Regions from separate parts of the Homo sapiens genome. Here region 2 is linked to region 1. Evidence: fine-mapped expression QTL. Tissue or cell type: skeletal muscle. Region 1 holds a variant in brackets; the other region holds the start of a gene. All regions are shown on one strand. Distances are from middle to middle.

What was found. PIP is the estimated chance that this variant, and not a neighbour inherited with it, causes the effect.
Region 2: it holds the start of LARGE1, and the variant in region 1 is fine-mapped to the expression of LARGE1 in skeletal muscle (GTEx, PIP 0.98).

Annotation. Positions count from the first base shown.
Region 1 is chr22:33,204,396-33,212,500 of GRCh38, reverse strand. It overlaps a transcript of LARGE1 not described here. Among named protein-coding and RNA genes, the nearest start is that of LARGE1-AS2, 44 kb to the right of the region's middle. The variant C/T (reference allele first, on the strand shown) is at 4,408.
Region 2 is chr22:33,916,845-33,924,949 of GRCh38, reverse strand. It overlaps LARGE1 (LARGE xylosyl- and glucuronyltransferase 1), which reads left to right and starts at 4,474. Exons shown (of 15, transcript NM_133642.5): 1 at 4,474-4,955. LARGE1-AS1 (LARGE1 antisense RNA 1) reads right to left here and starts at 3,725. Exons shown (of 2, transcript XR_001755630.2): 1 at 3,427-3,725; 2 at 1,895-2,543. RefSeq lists silencers at 3,607-4,106, 4,427-4,576, 4,847-4,946.

The DNA of each region.
Region 1 (8,105 bases):
TGTTGCATGACCAGAAGCATTGTGAATGAGCAGTAATATTTTGAAAGAAATATTTTTTCTGAATAATATTTCTCAACACTGGGCTTAAAATATTCAGGAAACCATGCTGTAAATGATATGCTGTTATCCAGGCTTGTTGTTCCATTTATAAAGCACAGACAGAATAGATATGGCATAATTCTAGGGGCCCTAAAGTTTTTGGAATGGTAAATGAGTACTGGCTTCTATTTGAAGTCACCACCTACATTAGCCCCTCACAAGAGAGGCAGCCTGTCCTTTGAAGCTTTGAAGCCAGGCATTGACTTCTCTCTAGCTAAGAAAGTCCTAGATGGCTTTTTTTTTTTTAACCTTGAAAATCTGTTGTTTAGTGGAGCCACCTTCATCCGTGATTTTAGCTGGATCTTCTGGATAACTTCAGCTTCTCCATCAGCACTTGCTGCTTCACCTTGCACTTTTGGTGTTATGGAGACAACTTCTTTCTTTAATCCTCATGAACCAATCTCTGCTAGCTTCAAACTTCCTTCTGCAGCTTCCTCACCTCTCTCAGCCTTCACAGAATTGAAGAGAGTTAGGGTCTTGCCCTGGATTAGGCTTTGGTTTAAGGGAATGTTATACAGCTGGTTTGATCTTTATTCAGATCACTCAGACTTTCTCAATATCAGCAATAAGGCTGTTTGGCTTTCTTATCATGTGTGCATTCACTGGAGTCACAGCACTTTTTTTTCTTTGAGACAGAGTCTCACTCTGTTGCCCAGGCTGGAGTGTAGTGGCGCGATCTCGGCTCACTGCAGCCGCCGTCTCTGGGGTTCAAGCAATTCTCGTGCCTCAGCCTCCCGAGTAGCTGGGACTACAGGTGTGTGCCACCACGCCCGGCTAATCTTTTGTATTTTTAGTAGAGACGGGATTTCAGCATGTTAGCCAGGCTGGTCTCGGACTCCTGACCTCAGGTGATCCATCGCCTCGGCCTCCCAAAGTGCTGGGATTACAGGTTTGAGCCACCACGCCCAGCCTCACAGCACTTTTAATTCCCTTGAAGAACCTTTCCTTTGTGTTCACAGCTAGGCTGTTTGGGACAAGAGGCCTAGCTTTTGGCCTATCTCCACTTTCAACATGTCTTCCTCACTAAGTGTAATCATTTCTAGCTTTTGATTTAAAGTGAGAGGTGTGTGTCTTCCTTTCACTGGAACACTTAGAGCCTTTTAAGTGTAACACTTGTAGCATTATGAATTGTCCTTATTTCAATACTATTGTGTCTCAGGAGGCCCGATGAGGAGGAGAGAGATGAGGGAATGACCAGTCAGAACATTTATAGATTAAGTTCTCTGTCTTACATGGTTCATGGAGCCCCGAAACAATTACAAATCACAAATCGCAGATCACTGTAACAGATATAATAATAATGAAAAAGTTTGAAATACTTGAGAATTACCAAAATGTGACACAGAGACACAAAGTGAGCACGTGCTGTTGGAAAAATAGCACCGATAGACTTGCTCAATGCAGGGTTGCCACAAACCTTCGATTTATAAATAACACAACTATCTTCAAAGTTCAATAAAGCAAAGTGCGGGAAAACGAGGTCTGCCTGTACCTTGTTACGGCAGCCAGAGCCAATGAATGCAAGGCCCCGGGGCAATGACTCACCCACATTTTGGGGGAGCCGCAGAGGCATCCGTGGTGTGAGGCCCAGAGCATAGGGGCAGCCTGGGAACAGGGGAGAGCCAGAGAGGGAAGAGAGGTCCACCATTCACCTGCAGCCCAAGGAACCAGGCCAGGTGAGCCCGTGTGCGTGTGAGCGCCCAGTGCTTCTCTATGGCAACAGGGGTGGAAGCTTGCATGGCATGGTGGGTCAGGCTTGAGGCTAGGTGCCATCAGGCCACGTCTGCCGGTGACTTAAGGGCAGGGAACAGCCACCATAGCAGCGGGCCTGGTGGCGGGGTAGGCAAAACAGCATGAAGGCTAAGACTGAGTTCAAGGAGGACCTCCCTCTGAGGCCTCCAAGAATGAGGTTCAGCCCTGTAGGGCTCCTAGAGCATCGTCAGTTGCAGAGGACAGGAGACCATGGCTGAGCCAATCCCAGGCGGCACACAGACCAGGTTCCGCCGGTGTCGTTCTCTTGCCATTTTTCAGAGAATGGGACCATTAAGACGCTAACTTCATTTTTTAAACCACTAGATGTCACCCTTGTGCCACCCCCGTCTATCTGCCAGACCATGCTCTGTGGAGGGCAAAGAGGACAAGGATACACGCCCCAAAGGCCTGTGGAGGCCGGGAGGGCGGCTGGTAGGGACCCCTGGGTCAAGGACCAAGGTTGAGAAGGAGCTAATGGAAAGCGACAGCCTCCTGGATCTGGAGAACACGGCTCTGGATGACTTTCCAATAGTGTTTCTCAACTTTGGCTGCATACCAGGAAAGCTTTAAAAAAACTGATGCCTGGGTCCCACCCTCAAGAACTTCTGTGTGAATTAGTAGAGGATTGGGGTGGGTACTGAGAGTTTTGAAAAATCCCCCAGTAGTTTTAATGTAGAGCCAAGATTAAGATTAAGAACCACAGCCGGGCGTGGTGGCTCATGCCTGTAATACCATTGCTTTGGGAAGCTGAAGTGGGAGGATCCCTTGAGGCCAGGAGTTCGAGACCAGCCCGGAAAAAATAGCCAGACCCCATCTCTACAGAAAAATAAAAATACAATTAGCTGGCCTGGTGGTGCACGCCTGTAGTCCCAGCTCCTCAGGAAGCTGAGGTGGGAGGATCACTTGAGCCCAGGAGGTCGAGGCTGCAGTGAGCTGTGATTACACCATGGCACTCCAGCCTGAGAGACAGAGTGAGACCCTGTCTCTATTATTTAAAAGAAACGATTGAGAACTGCTACTGTAGGCTGTGATTATGAATCCAGATATTGTACATAGAGCAAATATTTATCAATTGAATTGCAGTTGAAATGTACTCTAGAAGTTTGTTTTTATGAGCAAAACTGAATAAAGGAAAGTCAATGGATTTTTTGGAGCAGGGGTCAGAGTGTGGAAATTGAACCCACCACATCATATTTTCCTGTGACTGAATTTAATTTGAAAGGTATCTAACAAACATACATTTTATGTGGCACCCTGTGTGAGTCTCATAATATACTATCACTGTGAAGAGCTCTAATGTTGGAGGAAAATTACCATAGATCGCATCTGCTACCTCCTACCTTTGCATTTGTTAGTTCTGGAGGGTGAAGGTGGTGGAAAAGAGCTATAGAAAGAAAGTTAAGCAATGAAAGCTGTAAAGGGCTTAATACATAGTTGTTAAAATGTGACTTGTTTCGTTCACAGCACTTTTGTGATGTTTTGTCAACCACTGTGGAAGACAGTGTGGTGATTCCTCAAGGATTTAGAACCAGAAATGCCATTTGACCCAGCAATCCCATTACTGGGTATACACCCAAGTGATTATAAATCATTCTATTATAAAAACACATGCACCTGTATATTTATTGCAGCACTATTCACAATAGCAAAGACTTTGAACCAACCCAAATGCCCATCAATGATAGACTGGATAAAGAAAGTGTGGCACATATACACCATGGAACACTATGCAGCCATAAAAAAGAATCAGTTCATGTCTTTTGCAGGGACATGGATGAAGCTAGAAGCTATCATTCTCAGCGAACTATCACAAGAACAGAAAACCAAACACCACATTTTCTCACTCATAAGTGGGAGTTTAACAAGGAGAACACATGGACACAGGGAGGAGAACATCACATACCATGGCCTGTCTGGTGGTGGGGGTTAGGGCAGGGATAGCGTTAGGAGAAATACCTAATGTAGATGACAGGTTGATGGGTGCAGCAAACCACCATGGCACGTGTATACCTATGTAACAAACCTGCACATTCTGCACATGTACCCCAGAACTTAAAGTATAATAAAAAAAAAAAGTGACTTGTTTTTAAAGGTTAGTAAAGAGTCCATTTGAGACTCTTCTTTCTTCTAGAAGGATGCTCATAGACCTCCAATGGCTACTACACTGGGAAAGTTTGGAATGCAGTGACTACAATGAGTAACAACGTTTGATCTTTGTGACATAGTTACCTTGTACTTATCTTGTTGATTGCTAAGAAACCCAAGCAGCTTTGAAGACGACTTGGATTGCTTGAAACCTAAAACATCCATGCAAGGTGAAGGGGACTGACATATTCTTAGTTTCTTGGAAGAGAAAACACAGAGAGATCTTCCAGCCTGTTCTATGTGGCCTATACGATTTTCATAGATCTCATTTCCTTGGCCTTCCAATTCTAAAATCCTCACCCTAATTCCTCTCTTTTCTAGAACACCTGCATCTAAACAGGTATAATAAGATGGTAAATAGACGTGTTGGTGATACTGGAAGCTAGTGCCCTGAAACGGAGAACATTGAGC[C/T]TTAAGCATCCCACTTTGTAAAATGAAAGCATGGCTTTCCTCTTCAGGCTTATTACAATGAGGTAAAGCTAGTCCTATGGCCAACACTCATCCATACCCTCTCCAGTCTAAAGAAAAGACTAGAAATTTGAAAAGATTGCCTAAACTCAATGGAATTTGTGAAAATATGGAGTAATTGTGCCTTTAGGGGAGAAAAACTTTATTTTTTCCTCTCCCCTCCCTTCTTAATGGGGCCCGCTCCCCACCCAAGTCAAACTAGGGAGTATTCTGCAAGGACCACTTGCAGAGACCACACATGCCTAAAAGACGGTAGCCTGGCATCCCCTTTGCCCTGTTGGATATCTGTTGGAGCAGTGGATTTGCCAATCTTCAATCTGTGTGAGCAAAGGAAAAAGAAAGAAATAGAGCAATGGCTGGGTGGAAAAAGAAGCTTATAATGGGGTCGCCGACGCTCTCACTCTGTGGTGGGTGAGGATCATGAGTTTTCAATGGGCCATGTGGAAACTGAGAGTCAGCCAGTATCGAGCTTGTCTTGCCAGTGCTCCTCCCTCCTACCTGCAAGTAATCTGGCCAGCAGGGGAGGAGTACCATAGCAATAAGGTATTTTGGAAAGTATTACCTGGGGGCAGAAGGGGAATAGATATTTGGAGGAAGTCAAGTCAAAAAGGTTCTCCCACATAAGAGAATCATGCAGTGAGAAGCCTCAGGGACCTCTGGAAGCACTGAAATAGCTAGGGAAGAAGCGTCAACTGTAGCTGCGAAGTAAAAGTGCTTTTGCCACTTACCCATAATCCTTGCTTTCAGATCCTGATCTTGGAGAACTCCAAAGCATTAGGAGGAAAAGGGAATGGTAATTTAGTTTAGGCAATCTTTTCAAATTTCTAGTCTTTTCTTTGGACTGAAGAGGGTATGGATGAGTGTTGGCCATAGTACTAGCTTTACCTCATTGTAATAAGCCTGAAGAGGAAAACCATGCTTTCATTTTACAAAGTGGGATGCTTAAGGCTCACTGTGCTCCGTTTTGGGGCACTAGCTTCCAGTATCACCAACAAGTCTATTTCCCATAATGAAGGAGAATCAAAAGGGCCTGCTTCCTAGTATGCAAGGCAGTTCTGCACCGGAGAGGGGAAATGCTTTGAATTGAATATAAAAATAAAATTTTAAACTGGACTAACTGGGCTGGACATTTTAACACCACCTGTGGGATCTGCCCAATATGCCATGAAGCAGCAGGAAAGGAGGAGCCAACAGCATTTGTTTGAAGACTGATAGAAGAAAAACAAAATCATTTTGTCTTGTAGTCCACCAAGTACATGATTGTTCAAAAAACTATTTATGAGAGTTTCACACTAGACACAGAACCCAACTTTTCTCCAAGAGAGTTATTATGGAGGAGCAGAGACCTATTGGACTGTCCTATGGAGGAGCAGAGACCTATTGGACTGTGCTATGCTTTCCATATGGTTTCTTTCTGGCTGCAGGCATGCCAGCCTGCATATGTGTCCTTGGGTGGCTGGTCATTTGTTCTAGACCTTTAGTAAGTTATCTGTCCCAAACGACTTGTGACTGAAAGTTTCAACCCTAATGCAAAAAGTCATAGAAAGCATAAACTCCTTTTAAAAAATCTGAATCTGTAGGTAAGTAAGGCAGGAGGGAAGGGAAAACTTGCATGGCAAAATGGAAAAAAAAAGTCATGCAATTTGGTCAGTCACGGTGGCTCACGCCTGTAATCCCAACACTTTGGGAGGCTGAGGCAGGTGGACCACTTGAGGTCAGGGGTTCGAGACCAGCCTGGCCAACATGGTGAAACCCCGTCTCTATTAAAAATACAAAAGTTAGGCCGGGCGCAGTGGCTCACGCCTGTAATCCCAGCACTTTGGGAGGCCAAGGCAGGTGGATCACGAGGTCAGGAGATCAAGACTGTCTTGGTTAACGCAGTGAAACCCCGTCTCTACTAAAAATACACAAAAAATTAGCCGGGTGTGGTGGCGGGCGCCTGTAGTCCCAGCTACTCTGGAGGCTGAGGGAGGAGAATGGCGTGAACCGGGGAGGCGGAGCTTGCAGTGAGCAGAGATCGCGCCACTGCACTCCAGCCTGGACAACAGAGCGAGATTCCCTCTCACAAAAAAAAAAAAAAAAAAAAAAGAATTAGCATGGCATGGTAGTGGGCACCCGTAATCCCAGCTGCTCAGGAGGCTGAGGCAGGAGAATTGCTTGACTTGGGAGGTGGAGGCTGCAGTGAGCAGAGATCGGGCCATTGCACTCCAGCCTGGGCATCACAGCGAGACTCTGTCTCGGAAAAAAACAACAAAGTCACACAATATGATCAGATTTCAATGAATGTTTTCTCCCCTCTTGAGTAGTACTAAATCAATGACTCTCCACATGTGTCATATGCTAGAGATGAAATGTCCAATTTTTTTGCTGGAAACTTGACAAGAGCCTGTTTCTTTGGTCTTTCTGTTGAGTTTTTGAAGGAATCCTGCTTAATAAATTCTCCTTTAGTGAAACTGAATTCTGCTGGCTACAAATGAGAATGCTGAGGGAAACACTATTACATTACCCAGTTTTATTGTCCTTAAAACACTGAAACTCTCTTTTTATTTATTTGTTTATGTGCTATTTATTATCTGTCTCCATCCACTGAAATATAAGCTTCAAAAGAACAGAGACCTTTTTCATTTTGTTCAACTCTTTGTGCTCAGCATCTGGAACTTTTTAAAAGCTGAATTAGGGGTCTACCTTAGAGACTCAGCTTTGGAAAGAGACTTTCCCTGTGGCTGGCACATAGCAGTCTCTCAGTTTATTTTAGGTATTTTTTATTTTTTTAGTGCATGATCTCTCATAAAATGTAGCAAATGATGAGTGTCATGTGAGCATTGCCCAGAAGCAAAGGGCTGCATGTTGATTAATTACAGACAGAAGCTTGAAGGGGGTAGCATCTGAGACAGGTCTTAAAGAAAGAGTATGATTTTGGGTGGAAATAATGGGACAAGGTGTGACCAGTATATACTGTTGTGATCAGGAGCTACACAGACTGGTAAAGCTATTTTTTTTCAACCTAATATGTCCTCCATGCTTGTCCATTCGTTTTCATTTCTTTATTCATTTATTTCATAAATGTGTTCTGAGCACTCTTTTGCTATATTTCATCCATGTGCTAGAACGGAAGACTACAAAGATACTGAAGCTGTATACCTCCTTGGTGTTGCTTTCAGACAGTGGGGAGCAGGTTAAGATACTTTCAACAGAACCCTTCTATAGTAATTCCTACAATAGAGGCTTGAAAAAAAATGCTGGAATTAAGGCATGAACACAGCACAAGGGGAACACAGTTGAGGAATGGCCACCTTTGCTGTGTGAAAATGGGAAAGGCTCTTCCCAAAGCTAAGTCTATAAGGGAGACCTCTAATTTAGCCTTTTTTAAAAAAGGGATTCAAACATACTCCCAGCAGAGGAAATAGCACATTTCTGCTCAAAGGTTTGGAGAAGTGAAAGTGTTTGGAGGTGGCTTAAGGTGTTTAAGAGACATTTCTGGGATAACAGTGCTTGACTTTGATTAATTAGGTGCTAGAATCAGGGAGAGTGGAGGTTTATAGGAGTCTTGAAGATATTGAGATTGGGAAGCTGATAAGTCCATTAAATGAGACGTTTTCAAGCAAAAAGTCTTACATTTTAGTGAAATGCAAAGTTGGAAT
Region 2 (8,105 bases), 710 kb before region 1:
TGACTGCTAAGGATCTGGAAGCCATGAAAATTTAATTGCTAGTTAAAAATTTTAGGCAGCTTTCTGTAGGATCAGACCCGACATTTAGATGTTTTGATAAATATAACATTAATTAAGATACTGCAATCCTTCCATACTGGCTAAGTAGCCCTTGGAGTAATCACCCCTCCACTACCACTGGCTGCCATTCCCACTATACCCTGTCTCCTCACCCCTGCTGCAGGAACCACTCCTTCCTCCCAACATCAACACCACCATTTCACCAGAACCCAGCACTAAAGAATAAATGTCTGGCCTAGCAGAAGCCTTCAGGACTCAGCTCTAATGCTAGTGCCCCTGTGGCTGGCTTGACTTCAATTAAGTTGGCAGGTGGGTGCCCTGCTGTACAGGTTGCTTAATCTTTTAAATATCCTCTTTGTGAGAATTCAATCGTCTTGTTATGTAGCTCTTGAAGAATGTGCAAAACATTCAGAAAACAGTCCTCAAATCTTTGAAAGAACGTCCTGTTTGGAATGGCAAACATAATTGTGCCGACTTTGAGACAGTTAAGAGTATTTGGTAACCCTCCTCTCAAGGATACAATATTTCCTTTCTTGGAGGTGAGAAAAGAGTTGAGAAACTAAATTGACTTAGGAGTCAAAATTGGACTCAGGTCATTTATTACATAAAACTAGATTTGCCTCCAAACTTTGCACTATGTTTTTGTTTGTTTGTTTTGAGATGGAGTTTTGCTTTTGTCGCCCAGGCTGGAGTGCGATCTCGGCTCACTGCAACCTCCGCCTCCCCGGTTGAAGCAATTCTCCTGCCTCAGCCTCCTGAGTAGCTGGGATTACAGGCGCCCACCAACACGCCCGGAACATTTTACCATTTTTAGTAGAGTCGGGGTTTCGCCATGTTGGCCAGGCTGGTCTCTAACTTCTGACTTCATGTGATCCGCCCGCCTCAGCCTCCCAAAGTGCTGGGACTACAGTGCACTGTGTTCTTAACGTGCCTTTAGATTCCCCAGTTCCTAATATCAGGCACACAGAAAAACGGAGGTGAGAGTGTTTCCTGGCTTCCTCTTTGAGATGCCTTTAGGGCCCCCTAGTGGCTGCTTTAAGACCTCAGGTTTCTTAGGATTCGGTCTCCTTGACCCTAATAAAAAATAAGAGACCTTTCCGAATCTCTTCAGTGACAGGTACAATAACTGTGTGGAGATAAACAGATAACAGTTGGTTTAGATAGCTCATTTTTTTTTTTCATTTTTCAGTTCTCAGCAAAAGCTGCGCTCATTCTTTACAAATAACAGATATATCACTTTACATATTTTATTCTGCATTCTCATACTATATCGTAGCGGAAATCCTTTTAAGACATTTGTATCTTGGTTGTGTCAAAAGGCTATAATTCCTGGTAACTACATCCTACTTCAGGGTTTCCATGTATATGTATATACATATTTAGTTGCTTGGACTGGGGAGTTGAGGAGCTTTACAATTTTCCAACGTAATACTTTAAACCTGGGGCTTGATGTACTAACCAGAGGACTCAGTATGTGGCACATTTCAGTCTGACAACATTAATATCATTTAGAGCATTAGCTATGCCACTGACTGCAGGCACTTGCAACCTTGATTTGATAAAACAAAGCTTTTCCACATTTAAGGTGCTTATTGACCAATGCAAGTACACTTTGTGAAATCCACTAATAAGGCATTATGTCTTCAACGTGCCTTACTGACCAGCGTGAACATTGCTAGCTCCCACACCATGGTCACATTTTTCTTTCTTAGATTCCATCTAGAGAATGTACTACACTTGAGTCATTATAATGGAGATGTTTCTTTCCCGGAAGCTTATCTTTTAGTTTCTGATGTTATTCAACTATTTCTCCTTCGCTTGTAAATTTCAGGTCTTTTCCTTTCCTCAGTCACGTTACCTTTATTAATATGCTAATGTGCTGTAATAATGCATTTTACACCACTAATGAAGTGAAGCAAAGCAAAACGTAAAAAGAAAGTACAAATTCTCCCTTTAACTTTACCCGGTTCCGGGGAGGGGGTAGGGGTGAGAGAGGAGGAAGAGAGTAGGAAGGAAGGACATTCGGGCGGCAAAAAAATAAAAATGATCCCCTTGTTTTCAGCGCGTTCTGGAACAGAGCTGCACGTCAGAGGAAGAACTGAGCAGCCTTCGAGCTAAAAGACTTGGCATTAAACTTTGACACTTTAATGGTCTCTAGGATATTAGATAGTATTTTTTCATATAATGTTCTTCTCCGACACGGTAATGGCATCAGAAACAGAATCTGCTATGCCTGCCAACGTGCACGGTGAGGCTCATCGCCGCAGAGGTAAGACAGCAGGACCCCAGCTTCGCAGTTAACTTATCCCGAAGCTCCAAAGCAAACGTCTTTTACTTCTTCGCCGGGGACGCTGCTGTACCACCGCTGCCTCCCTTTCGCATTCTGCTGGGCTCGGTCAGCCGCTGAGATTAGGTAAACAGCGCTCCGGAGCCGGGGCAAAGCGGGCGCTGCTGCTGCTGGTGGGGGTCGTTGTTTCACGAGGCTGGAGGGAAGGGGGATGGGAGAAGGGTCCCAGCTCGGTAAAGCCAAAGGCCGAGAGTGTGGTTACCGAGGCGGGAGCCAGGTCCGGAGCCAAGCAGGGGCCAAGCCTCCGAAGCCCTTGCCGCCCCACCCCCCCAGCCCGACCTCGAGGAGTGGGGTCAGCTGGGCAACCCAAGCTCGGCGGCCCTTTCCCGCGCGCCCCCTCCCCAGCCCATCCTTCCCCTGCCCCTTCCAAGAACTAGGGTGGGCTTCCCGCTGCCTCGCTCGAGTCCTGGAGAGCGGAGAGGCGCGCAGAGGGAAGGCAAAGACCCGGCGGCCCGCCCGGCTGGGGAGAGGTGGAGACCCGGGGGGAAGGGGACCCCAGAAGCCCTGGGACCGAGCTGCGGAAAAACCCGGGAGCTGGATCGCGCGCCCGGAGCTCCGGTCTCCGAGTCCGAGTTGTGCAGCTCTCGGCGTCCTCTTTCTCTCCCTGCCTCTCTGCTTTCGCCTCCTCTGGGTCTTCTCTCGAGGGCATCCTCCTTCCATCCATTCTCACACCCCCGCTCCTGTGCCCCGACCCATTTCACCCACTTCTCCTGTGGCTCGGGAGGACTCTCCGTACCCCCACCCTGGTCCCTAGAACTGGGAGGCTGGAAGTCCATTCAAGGGATGTTGCGCGCCGGGTTCTTATGCCAAGAGGGAAAGAGCGAGAATAAAATCAGCAGGGGAGGGGCGTGTTGTGCGTGCATGGGGTGTGTGTTTGGGGTGGAGGAAAAAGAAATGTAGTTTCCTCAGAGGAAGAGGAAGCCTTGGACAGGATTCTTGGATACCGATCCCAGAAAGATGCCGTCAGAGCCCTTCGGCGGGGCTCCTCACAGACTCCGGCTGCCCCACAGCATGCCCACCTCCGAGAGAAGCTGCGACCCGAGGCGGGGAAACTTCCTACTTCTCACGACGGCTGTTTTGTGCAATTTGGGGAGCAGGCTGCATGGTCCTGCAAGCCTGCGAGCCTCTCTACCACGGCAGCTGCGGGCCCGTCCCGCTTCCCTTCCCCCTTTTTCCGCGAGGCACGCCAAGCCCGAGGCGGCCGGGAGCCGCCGGGGTTGGGGGAAGAAGGGCGGGGAGCTCCCAGCTTGCACCCTTTCATCCCGACCCGGCCCGGGATCCCGGCTCCGGGTGTTGCTTCCGCCTGCCTGCCAGCCAGCGAGCTGAAGAAGCACCGGGGCGGAGTCTCGCCGGGGGGCGGAGCCTGTGCGGGGGCGAACTCTCGGTCCGCGCGGCTGCGGCGCTTGCCATTGGCCGGCCGCTCGGTCACGGGGTCGGGGGCGGGCGCCGACGCGGGCGCCGGCCCCGCCCCCGCTCGGAACCCAGCCCCGGCTCGCGGTCCCCCCCGGCTGCACAGACATGACACAGACACACAGTCACTGCAGCTGCTGAGCGAGTCCGGCGCTCTGGGCACGCGGAGGCGGCGGGGCCAGCCCGGAGCCCGGACCCCAGCGCCCGCCCCTGCCGGTTCCCGCGCGGCGGCCCACTCCTGGCCGGGCGCGGGAGGCGGGGATCGCGCGCCGGCTCCGGCCAGCGGCGCCCGGCTGCCCGCGGCGGCTGCAGCGGCCGCCCAGCTCCGAGCGCCGGGCGCTCCGGGAAGCCGGCGCATCTCGGAGGCGGCGGCGGCGGCCAAGGCCGGCGAGCGCTCCCGGCGGCGGGGGCCGCCCGCCTCGGCTCCCCGCACCCACCGCGCCGCGATCCACTCGCCGCGCCTCCGCTCCCGTGACCTTCCCGGGGCGCCTCCCCTAGCCCCGCGCCCCCGGCCCCGCGCCCCAGGCCGGGGCGAGGCCTTTTCCGGCGCTTCTTTCCCGCGGAGCCGCGGGCGGGCGGCGCAGGCCCTGGGGGAGAGCGCGCCGCGGCCGGTTGCAGCCCCCCCCGCGCCGCCGCGTTCGGCGCCCGGCCCGGCCAGTCTGCTCCTGCCCCGCCGCCGCGCCGGAGCCCGGGCGCCCGAAGCTGGGGGCGCGGCCGCGCTCGTCTCGCCGGGCTGTTCGCGGGCAGGCCCTGCCCTGAAGGGACGAATCGGCTTGGAGCGCGGGAGGTGGAGTCGGCCCCGGCGGTCGCTCCCTGGACCCAACCCGAGGCTGACCCAGGCCCCTGCCCATGCGGGGCGCCCCTGGCTCGGAAGAGTCCCCCGGGCCGGGAGCAGCTCCAGGCAGCGGCCCCGGAGGAAGAGGAAGAAGGGACAGTGCTCAGCTTGGGGGACCCGGACCCTCGCCGCGGCATTTGGAGCCGGGGGCAGTCCCGAACTCTGTGCTTGGCACCGCCGCTCCGAGTAGGGCAGCGCCTGCCGGGACCCTGACCCGGACCCCCTGCGCCTCGTAGGCGGCGGCGCCGCCGCGCCACCCTGTTCTTCCGTGTCTCCCTCTGCCTGGCGGCAGTCACGGCCAAGGTAAGAGCCCCGGAGCGCGAGAGTCGCCGCGGGGGCGCCGTGGTGTGTAGCGCCGGACAAGTTCTCCGAACCTGTGGCTGGTACCCCCTGTACTCGGGATGCCGGCGGGGAGGCCGGGCACACCCTCTGCTGCCCCGGCCGGGAGCCCTGGAGAGGCTGGAGGTGGAAGCCCCCAGTCTCCGAAGTCCCCAGGACCCCCTCAGGGCCTGCTCGGCTTCTGGGCACACAGGCTGCTGGCAGGGAGCGAGCCAGGAGGAGTTTCTGGTTAACACCACGAGGGCATGTGACCGATACCCGCACCCCCGGCCCTCTTGTTAGCGGTGAGCACCTGTGGTTCGCGGAGCCTGCCGTGTTTGGAGAGGGCCCTGTTGGGCGGTACGCAACTACCTTTCGTGGTGTGATGCTGTGAATAACTTTTCTTGTTCCTTCTTGCAGACAGTCCTGCGCAATTTGGGGGCGAGCAGCCACAGCTTGCGAGTCCCTCTTTAGGACAGAGTGGTTGGTTGGCATTGCTATCTGTAGGGGGGAAGCCCAGCCAGCATGTCCTTCCTGTTAGTCAAAGCTGCTTGTGAGGAGTGATCAGTGTATAGCTATCCAGACATTCTTGTAAATGTCACTGCTTTTGAAGTTTTGGAGTGAGGACTCCAAAGTTTGTGTATCCTCAAGTTATTTTGTTCATTGCCTTATCCTCTTTTAAATGTTCCTCTTAAGGAACCTCAGTTGTACAAGCCTGTCCTTGCCTGTTTGAAATTTATTAAACCTGTGAGCTTCCCCCAGAACAATCTGATTTTAAATGGGTCACTTCGGAGGGAACAGATTGTCTCTTGCACACTGAATCCATCCCTTGGGTGACCCTGTTTAATGGGGTTGGACTCTTTTTTTTTTTTTTTTTCGTCTCTGTGCTGATGTGCCTCGGTTGAGCAGGTTTCTGCTGAATTCAGAATCCGTGAATTTTGTCACTCAGTCCATTAAAATGATCTCCTGAGGGAGCAAAATAGCAGCTTACATTTTTCGTGAATGTCACTGGAAGTTTTACAGGGTCTTATGTAAGTGCCCAGAGAGAGAGAGAGAGGAGGGAGTGGGGGGAGATCAGGCTCCTGCTTCCTTCAAGGGGAGAAACGGAGGGGGTGGCAGGTGGGGGCGTCCGCCTCCCTGACATGCAGATGCCTTTCTTCTCTGACACAGGTGTGGAGACCTGAAGTGCTTATCATTCCGTGGAGGCAGTCACCTCGGGTTAATTTTTCTTCTCACTTCTCCTGTCTTCCCACCTCAGGAGTCAGCTTTGATAGACTTAAGATAAGGAAAGCTTCTAAATTAAGAAGGGAACAAGTGGTGGTTGTTTCTTCTCCCATCCCTCACAAATGGGTGACATGAATGAATTACTCACTGGCACGCTTGGTCCTCCCTAGGGGTAAAAATAAAAGAAATAAAAACGCCAGCTTTAAGATTTCACACATCTCTTAGTGTACCTTTATTGTTCAAGAGTACTTTAGTGAAAATTGCTTGTGGAGAACACATTTATCGAGCCTGTCCCTGTTAATTCCATACCAGGAAGAAAACTCACTCGAACAGAGAGGCAAAAATCACCAAGATTTAGAGGTTAGTGGGTTTTCAAGAGTGGCGAGGAAAGGAATCAAATCCCCCTGGCAGGAGAGAGAGGTTTTTAACGGGAAGATCGGATTGCTCTGGAGTGAGCAGTAGCTGCTGACAAGTGTGGGCCCTCCTGCTTCACTTAATGAAGTGTGCTGGGGTGTGGATTAACTTTTTGATGTGAGCCAATGCAGATTCCTTTGGCTTTTAAACCATACCTGGAAGGGCCTTAGAAATGAAATGAAAGGTTTTTTTCATCTCATCATAGGTCTCGGAAGTGCTTCCATCTCTTGGGAAGGTTGTGACGAAGGTTTCCTTTGTTTCTGGGTTCCTGAGCTGCGCTTTAAAGTTGATGCACAGTGCAGGGAGGGTGCGTCCTGTAGTGTCGCCATCCTTCAGCCACCTACAGTAGCAGGACACTAGGGGGGACTAGTTATCTTTTCCACCATCGAAGAAGAAAACACCAGGGCCCATGTTACTGTGGTTTATCTTGAGGGTTCATGAGCCTGTGGTTTATGTTGAGGGTTCGTGAGACTGTGGTTTATCTTGAGGGTTCCTGAGATGAACTTTTTGGGATCTAGTACATGCTTGCACTAGTGAGTGGATTCTGAGTGCCTAAGGGATGGGCCTGCTCACATCTAAATTGTCATTTGGACAACTCAGAACCAGTTAACTGCAAAATGTTATGTGACATTCTGAAAAGACTCAGTTATAATCTCTAAGTATTTAAGGACTACAAAAAGGCTCTATCCTTTGAATATTAGACCATCCTAACTTTAAGTTCCCTAACAGTTTGTAATCAACACTTTTGGTGTTTGGTTTTTGACTGCATATTCCCTGCAGTCATCATAAAATCACATGGCTTCAAAATGTCTCTGCAGTGGACTCCATCAAACTTAAAATTCCCCTTAAAAATACATTCCGTATACTTAGAGATGTTAACATAACATTTGACGGTGTAGTTGCACTTCCACCTCAGACGCTGTCTGCACTTTTAATAGTATGAAATCATTAATGTCCACAGCCCTTCCAGCAGAATTGGAAGATAATTCTACTTCCCTGAAGAACACTGACTGCCCCATTGCCTAGGTTTACCCAAGTAGCTAAGTCTTATCAAAGCTGATCCCAGAGGTGGGAGTAGCGGGGAGACAGGAAAGATGCAAGGTAGAGGCCAAGAAGAGCCTGCTTAGTTTAGAATACTGTCACAAAAACAGGCAGATATCACCAAGATGTTGGTCACACTGGATTCTAAAAGGCCCAGTTCAGCATGTAGAGTTAGACTCTGTTTGAAACCTGTGAACCCACCTGAGTTATTACTTTTCCCTTGAACTCTGGGGTCTGGTAGACGGCATTTGTGACCCTTTACCCATACGTGTAGTGCACATTTAGGTAGTTGAAGGGGAGCTATTGTTGTGGTCTAGGAAAAATGGTCAGCAGACAGCTTTATTTCTAACATTAAGACTTTATAGATTGATTCTCTTGGGCACAGTACAGCCAAGGGGTAAGAGATTGGAACAGGAAAATACCATCGCATTTGCCATTGAGCACCAACGATTGAAG